Linked DNA regions of Homo sapiens. The protein of the gene in region 2 interacts with the protein of the main gene of each other region in a pairwise test. Each region holds a gene or a part of one and is shown on either strand. Other genes may lie near its edges. The genes, in order: PINX1 and GABPA.

The links.
Region 1: the proteins of GABPA (region 2) and PINX1 interact in a two-hybrid assay, tested with the Homo sapiens proteins (one large-scale study listed by BioGRID and IntAct).

What each region holds. Positions count from the first base shown.
Region 1 is NC_000008.11:10,829,876-10,833,375, reverse strand, and holds part of PINX1 (PIN2/TERF1-interacting telomerase inhibitor 1), read left to right. Parts: intron 1-391; coding exon 392-484; intron 485-1,632; coding exon 1,633-1,711; intron 1,712-3,500. UniProt on the Homo sapiens protein: Microtubule-binding protein essential for faithful chromosome segregation. Mediates TRF1 and TERT accumulation in nucleolus and enhances TRF1 binding to telomeres. Inhibits telomerase activity. May inhibit cell proliferation and act as tumor suppressor.
Region 2 is NC_000021.9:25,765,754-25,769,788, reverse strand, and holds part of GABPA (GA-binding protein alpha chain), read right to left. Parts: intron 786-4,035; coding exon 557-785; 3' UTR 1-556.

The DNA.
Region 1 (3,500 bases), on a different chromosome or scaffold from region 2:
AAAGACCAGTGGTTTTCCATTGTCTTTAAAATAAAATCCAAATTCCTCCCGTAGGTTATGTGAGATCTAGCCCCTCCGTCATCCTACTTCCTTCATTCCTTAATTTGCAGAAGCCACCCTGGGTGCCTCTGAGGTTTCCCAGTACACTGAGTTTTTTCCCACCTTCGGGTCTTTGCACTTGATCTTTCCTTACCTGGAAAATCTTACAGATGAGTGCTAATTGATGCAGAGGACTTAGAGTCCTCCCCCATGTTGCTTTGTGAAAGTATTTAATGGAGAGAATCATCAACTCAGAACACCTGCCGTAGGCATCTGTGAGTTTTGTAGCAGTGCTCTGCTTCTGAGTATCAGTGAGAGGAATGTTCTAACTCTCTGTGTTTAATCTCCACAGGGTTTAGGGGCTCAGGAGCAAGGAGCCACAGATCATATTAAAGTTCAAGTGAAAAATAACCACCTGGGACTCGGAGCTACCATCAATAATGAAGTGAGCAGCAGTGTGTGCCTCCTGGGTGTCTTTGCATAATTGGCTTCAGTCTTGTAAATCTGAAAGTTGATTGGTTCATCTGCTTCTGACCATTGGTGCAGCACTTCTTTTTATTCACGTTTCCTCTTGAACACTGACGCTTTGAATGCATGGCACTATAACTCAGAGTCAGTGGCCTACCGCGCTTTTTATTTTTAGTATCATTGTTCCCTTTTGGAAAGGATCTAAACTGAAAAGTTTTGTTTCTAAGTTTTTGCAGCCAACATAATCTGGTAGGGAATCTGGGAAATTACTTTAGGTAAATTGAATTACTTTGGTTAGTTCCGTATCTCTGAGTAGTGGATTGGCGGAGCTAAAATTTTTAGCCACTAAAGAAAGAGTTTATATAAAGTTGATTTCAAATGTAGTTGTTGAGGGATAGATAACACAGATATACTTATTTTCTTAGAAGAAGCATTGCCCAGTAAACCTATTTCATATTCCTTTACCTTAAGCATTCTTAAAAATTGCTAAGAATGTGAGTAAGGCAGATTCGTACACTGAAACCCTGCTTCCCACTGGTTTGGGAGATCTTCATTCTCTTATAAAAGCCAGGTTCATTTTTTTATAATAAACTTATTAGGTAACCACCTTACAAATGGGAACTCATCGATTCAGGGGACTTAAGGTTCTTCCTCCTCCCCTTCCTCAGAGTTTTGTAAAATTGGAGTTGATGCAAGTCATTAGAAGATTTTAATTCTACCAAGCAAAGAAGAGCATTTTTTTGTCCCGCATGGTTCTTGTCCTTTCAACTATGGAATTTCCCCTAGTGAGAAAAAAATAGTCATTTCATTATGTTTTACTTTAACATTTAGCACACAGGTTGCCTGTTGATTATTTACTATATATTGACTTGATCGATAAGTCATTCACATTTGAAATCAGGCCTTAAGCTTCCAGGAAGCCCCTTTTTAATATTGACCTGGATAAAGAGCATTTTAACTTTATATTATTTCTTGAATCCACTTAAATTTATCAAATAGTATTTTGATGGAACATTTAAAATTTCTTAATTAACCACTGGATTTCCTTGATTCCAAAATGTATCATCTCAGTCAGTGTAAGTAAACTACAGGCTTACCTCTCGTTCATTTCTTTGATATTTTCAGGACAACTGGATTGCCCATCAGGATGATTTTAACCAGCTTCTGGCCGAACTGAACACTTGCCATGGGCAGGAAACCACAGGTAGGGAAATCAGATGACATAAGTTCTCAATGCAAATATGTTTATCTACTTTTTGTTTTTTGCTTTTATTATTTTTAGTTGACACATAATTATACATATTTATTGAGTATAGTGTGATATGTCAATACCTGTGCACAATTTGTAATGTACACATGTGTTATGTTCATCAACGTAATTAGCATATATATCACTTCAGACATTTATTATTTGTGTTGGGAGCATTTAAAATCTGTTCTTCTAGCTATTTGAAAATATAAAATAAAATATTATTTATTATAGTCACCCTACAGTGCTATAGAACACTAGAGCTTTTTCCTCTTATGTAGTGGGACTTTTATATCCATTAGCCAATCTTTAGCTGTTCCTACATAGCTGTTTTCCTTACGCAGCTCTAATAACCACTATTCTGCTGTCTACTTTTATGAGCTCAACTCTTTTAGCTTTTCCATATGAACGAGAATATGTGATATTTATCTGTGCCTGGCTTATTTCACTTAATGTCCTCCAAACTCAACCATGTTGCCTCAAATGAAAAACTCTCATTCTTTCGTAAGGGTAAATAGTATTCCGTGGTGTGTATGCACCACATGTTTCCCAGTTCATGTGTTGGTGGACACTTAGGTTGATTCCATATCTTGGCTGTTGTGAATAGTGCTGCAGTGAACGTGGGTTTGCAGGTACCTCTGCAACATGCTGATTTCCTTTCCTTTGGGTAATGCCTGGGAGTGGATTGCTGGATCATATAGTAGTTCTATTTTTAACTTTTTGAGGAGCTGCCGTACTGTTTTCTGTAGTGGCTACATCAACAGTGCATAAGAGTTCCAATTTCTCCATATCCTAACCAGTAATTATCTTTTATAATTTTGATAATAGCCATCCTAATGGGTGTGAGATGATGTCTCATTGTGATTTGGATTTCCATTTCCCTAATGACTGATGTTAAGCATCTTTTCATCGCTTATTGGCCATTTTTATATCTTCTTTGAAGAAGTGTCTAAGTACTTTGCCCATTTTTTAATTGGATTTTGTTGTAATCTGCAAGCATTTTTATAAACATTCTTGTTTATGAACAGTCTATTCCTTGTGTGTCATGTGTGAATAATCAAAAGATATTTGGTAGATTGAAAGAATTTTGTGGAGTGAAATAATGAATTAGACTTGAGTTCAGCAAACATTTATTGAGCTGTGTGCTGGGTACTAGTTTAGGTGTGAGGATCTGCAGAGGTATAAGACACAGTCCTGCTTGGAGGTAGCTAGCAGAATATGCTGGTAATTACCTGGTAAAATCACAGCACACATCTAACCATAGGAAGGTTTATTGCAGTGACGTGTGTGGAAGTGAGCCCAACAGTGTGAAGGGAAAGGTGCTTTGTTGGTATTTTTTCTAACCAGATTGGACTTTTTGTTGGAATGTATAACTTGGACAGTTTTCCTTATCCATAGGATCATGATTTTGAAATAACCTAACAGTTCTGTGTGTGGTCCTAATATGAAGGGCAATAATTTATTAGCAGAAGAAAAAGATAAGGAAAATGTTTTCTGAAAATACTGAATGACTCATATTAGGAAATGCAGGATCTATGAAGTAGTAAAGTTCAAGGACACTATTCCTTACTAATTATACACAGAAAACATCTTGATATTTACGATCACAGTTGAACTCAGTAGAAACACAGATAAGAATGTAAGCTTGGCTGGGCACGGTGTAATACCAGCACTTTGGGAGGCTGAGGCGGGCGGATCACCTGAGGTCGGGAGTTTGAGACCAGCCTGACCAACATGGAGAAAC
Region 2 (4,035 bases):
ATATAAATAACCTGATACTCTTAGTTTAGTAATTTATTAATATAAATTTATTCGGTATGAACATTTTAGCTCTGCTTGATTAGATGAAACAGGCACACATGCTTTAGCTGAGAAATTCCATTTTCTGGTTCTATGTAAAGCAACATCTAAAGCAGCAGAGAGGGGAAACAGTTATATTTTCAAAAATAGTTAAGCCAGACTGTTTCCTAGAGATACTTCATTTATTTTTCATTTTCAGATACTACTGGCTATTTTTGGTAGGGCTACACATTAATACTGACCAGTTTAGCCTTCCTGACTGTTAAACTATTCCACAATGAACCTGCCTTCACACTGCAGACATTGTGGAGATCCTTTAACATACACATATTCTAAAATATATGCTCAAAGTAAAAAGATCCAAATTCACAAGAGTATGAAATATTTATAAAAAAATCATGCATCAGACTGTACAGCCTAGAAATAAAAGAAGATTCAAATTCAGTAATAAAGGTAAGAGCTATACTTGCTCTAAACATTTTAAGAAAGACTTTGGAGTCTCAGAATGTCCTGGGGCTCAATTATCCTTTTCCGTTTGCAGAGAAGCAGTAGCCAGAGCTACTGCTGTGACTGGCTGGGCAATTCCATGGAGCTGCATCTTTGCAAGTTTCTTCTGTTCACATTCTGTGACCAAACGGTTCAACTCCGCTGCACTGTATCCAATAAGAGTCTTCAAGTCACAGACAAACTTGTACACAAATCTCTTGCCTTGAACTTTACAAATCATGTCCCCATCGTAATAATATCTTCAAAAAGAGAAAAAAAAATTAGAGACTTCAGAAAAAATGAGACTTCTTACAATAATTTACAGACTATTCCATAAGCAGAAGCCTAGTAGAGTACTGCATCCGCCACAATAGCAATTAATATTGAAGCTATGTAGAATATTTAATGCTACTATCAAATGAAACATCCCAACATTATTTACTAAAATTTCAATGCTCACTACTCCAAAACTCTATACATTAAACTTTCAAAACATATTTTCAACAATTAGAATAAAACATTGATTTAAAAATAATTATTAAACAAAACAAAAAACCTTGAGAGCAGTAGAAGAGCCTAAGAACAAGAGCTTTGGAGTCAGAAAGCCAAGATTCAAAACCTAACATTTTTGAGACCACAGGAGTCATATTTTCTCAAAGCTTTTATTCCTCATCTATAAAGTGAGGTTAACAGTGCTTATACCCTCATATCATTGTTGAGGATTAAAGGGATAATCTTTGTAAAGTGCTTAGTATACAATGACTGGCACACAGCCCTCTACAAAATATAAGCTATGTTAATAAAAATCGATAATATAAAAAAAATTAATACATATATTCCACTTCTTTTCTGTCTTGTAAAGAATCCTATATGATGAAGTCATGTCTTCATCTTTATTATTTCACTATGTAAACGCTTTCCAAATTTCAGATAAATTATCCAAGCCCAATAGGGAGCTTTAAGTCTAAGGAAAAGGTCTAAAAGAAACAGAGGATACAGAAAAACAGGTAAAGGACATTGCAAAGAGACAATGTTTCTAAACGTACACAAGCAGAGTTCCGGCAATCATTCTAGAAATCTAGTTTACTGCTGCATTCTATAGAGATGCAAATGGAGCTGGATTTATGTTTCCTTTGGAAAACAGACTTTATTTAAACACACACTATGTATTGCTAATTCCAACAACAGGAAAAAGAGGCAAGTCAAGCTCTTTCCACGACTGGCAGATTGCAAAGCCCTTATTTTAAAATTGCACTGCCCACTGACAAAGGGCTATTATAAAAGAAACAACTATTTGCAAAAGTACCAGATATAAACTATCACATTTAGCAGGATAAAAGTCACTTGGCTTAATCAAGAGTCTATTAATGAAAGGACTGACCTATATACAGGAAATTGTCATCTTTCCCTAATTCCAGAATAGCAAAAGAAAAATAGTTATGTTTGATTTCCCAGTAAGAGATATAACACATTGGGCAGTCTTGTAGTTTCCATTTATGTCAATTACATTAGTACAGAATTTGGATTTCAGCTCATAAACCAACAATTCCTTGCCATCCAGTTAAAAATGCTATAGGCATATCAATTGCTTTAAAAAATTTCTACATTAATATGTAAGACTATACGTGGGGAAAAAAAGGAAAATGGAAAAGGAAAGAGGTTTTATAATTCTAGGAGGAAAATGGAGTTGGCATAATCATATTTCTTGGTAAGAGGTGATAAAAAAGAATATACACACATAAATTTGAATTTTACTGAATACTTCTTTTGATCTAGTAGATGCATCACACAACTGTATATAGTAGCATTTATTCCACTTGTTGCCTCCCTAAAATGAAAGATACACAATACCTGTATTTCATGGATATGATTTCTTTTCTTCCCTCTTTTTTTTTAAACTTGTATTTTTTTAAACTTTTTAATTGCAAATATATCACACAAACAAAAGGACACAGAAGTGAACAGTTCAGTGATTTATTACAAAGTGAACATTCACTCACCTGTTAAGTATCACTCAGGTCAAGAAACAGAACACTGCCAGCATCTAGAATCCCCTTTATGTCCCCTCCCAATCACTCCCCAAATCCTGGCTCTAAAAGGTAAACACAAGCCTGTATCATGATAGTAATTTGACTGCTTTTTCTTTATATTTTTATCACCCAAACATGCATCCCTAAATACTGAAATTTAATTTTCCTGTTTTTTGAACTTTACTAAATAAATGTAATCATACAGAATTTGGTCTTTTGGGTCTGGATTCTGTCACTGAACATTATGTTTGTGAGGTTCACTGGTCATTGTTTGTAGCAGGAGCTTAGTTTTCAAGAATGCAAGGTATTCTTGTATGAATATACCATAAATGATTCATTCACTCTACTGTTGATAGATATCTGGTTGTTTCTGGGGTTTGGATGTTATAAATAATCTGCTATGAACATGTGTATGGGCATAGAAGTACATCTCTGTTTGATGTGTATGAAACAGTTGCTTAGGGGAGCAACTGTTACAATTTACATTCCTATCAAAAGGGTAGAAGCATTCCCATTGCTCCATATCCTCAACAGAGCTTAGTTCTGGCAATCTTTTAAATTGTAGCCACTCTAGGGGGTGAGTTGTACCATTTAATTATGGTTTTCAATTGCATTACTCTGAATACTAATGAGGCCGTACACCTTTGCATATATTCATTGGCCATTTGGATAATCTCTAGCCTGAGGTGTCTATTCAAGTCTCTTGCCCATTAAAAAATTGATTTGTAAGAATTGGTTAGATATTCTAGATACTTCTGTCCGACATGTGTGGCTCTCTTAATAAGGCTTTCAACGAACAGAAATTCCTAATTTAAATATAGTCCAGTTTATTGATCTTTCCCTTTAGAATTAGTCCTTTTGATTCTGTTTAAATGTCTCCCTACCACCAGAAGTTATGAAAGTATTTCTAGATCCTTTTCTATTTTACTTTTTACATGTAGAGCTACAAGCTACATGGAATTGATTTTTGGTACGGCATAAGCAAGAGGTCAACTTTTACTTTTCCCCAGAGATGGAGAGTAAATTATCCCAGCACTGATTATTGAAAAGCAGGTCGTTTCCTCATATGTTTTCTCCCCACTGCCATTTCTTTAAATCAAATGCTTACATATTCCTGGTTCTATTTTGGCTCCCTATTCTACTGTATGGCCTATTTGTCTTGAGAAAATAGCATAACTGTCTTATTACTGTAACTTTAGAGTCAGTCTCAATATCCTGTGGGACAAGTCTTTCCACTTTGCTAATCTTCAGGTGTCCTGACTACCATGGTACTTTATAGTCCCATGTAAATTTTACAATTATCTTCTCAAGTTCTATGAAAAACTTAGTTTGATTTTTCAAATTAAACTAAGTTGCTGCACTGAAACTTAGATCAATCTGGGGGGGAACTGACATCTTAATTATTAACTCTAACAATTTACCTGTAATTTTGAGGGGACTTGTATGTATACAATCTGTATCAACTCTCAAAAATGGCAGC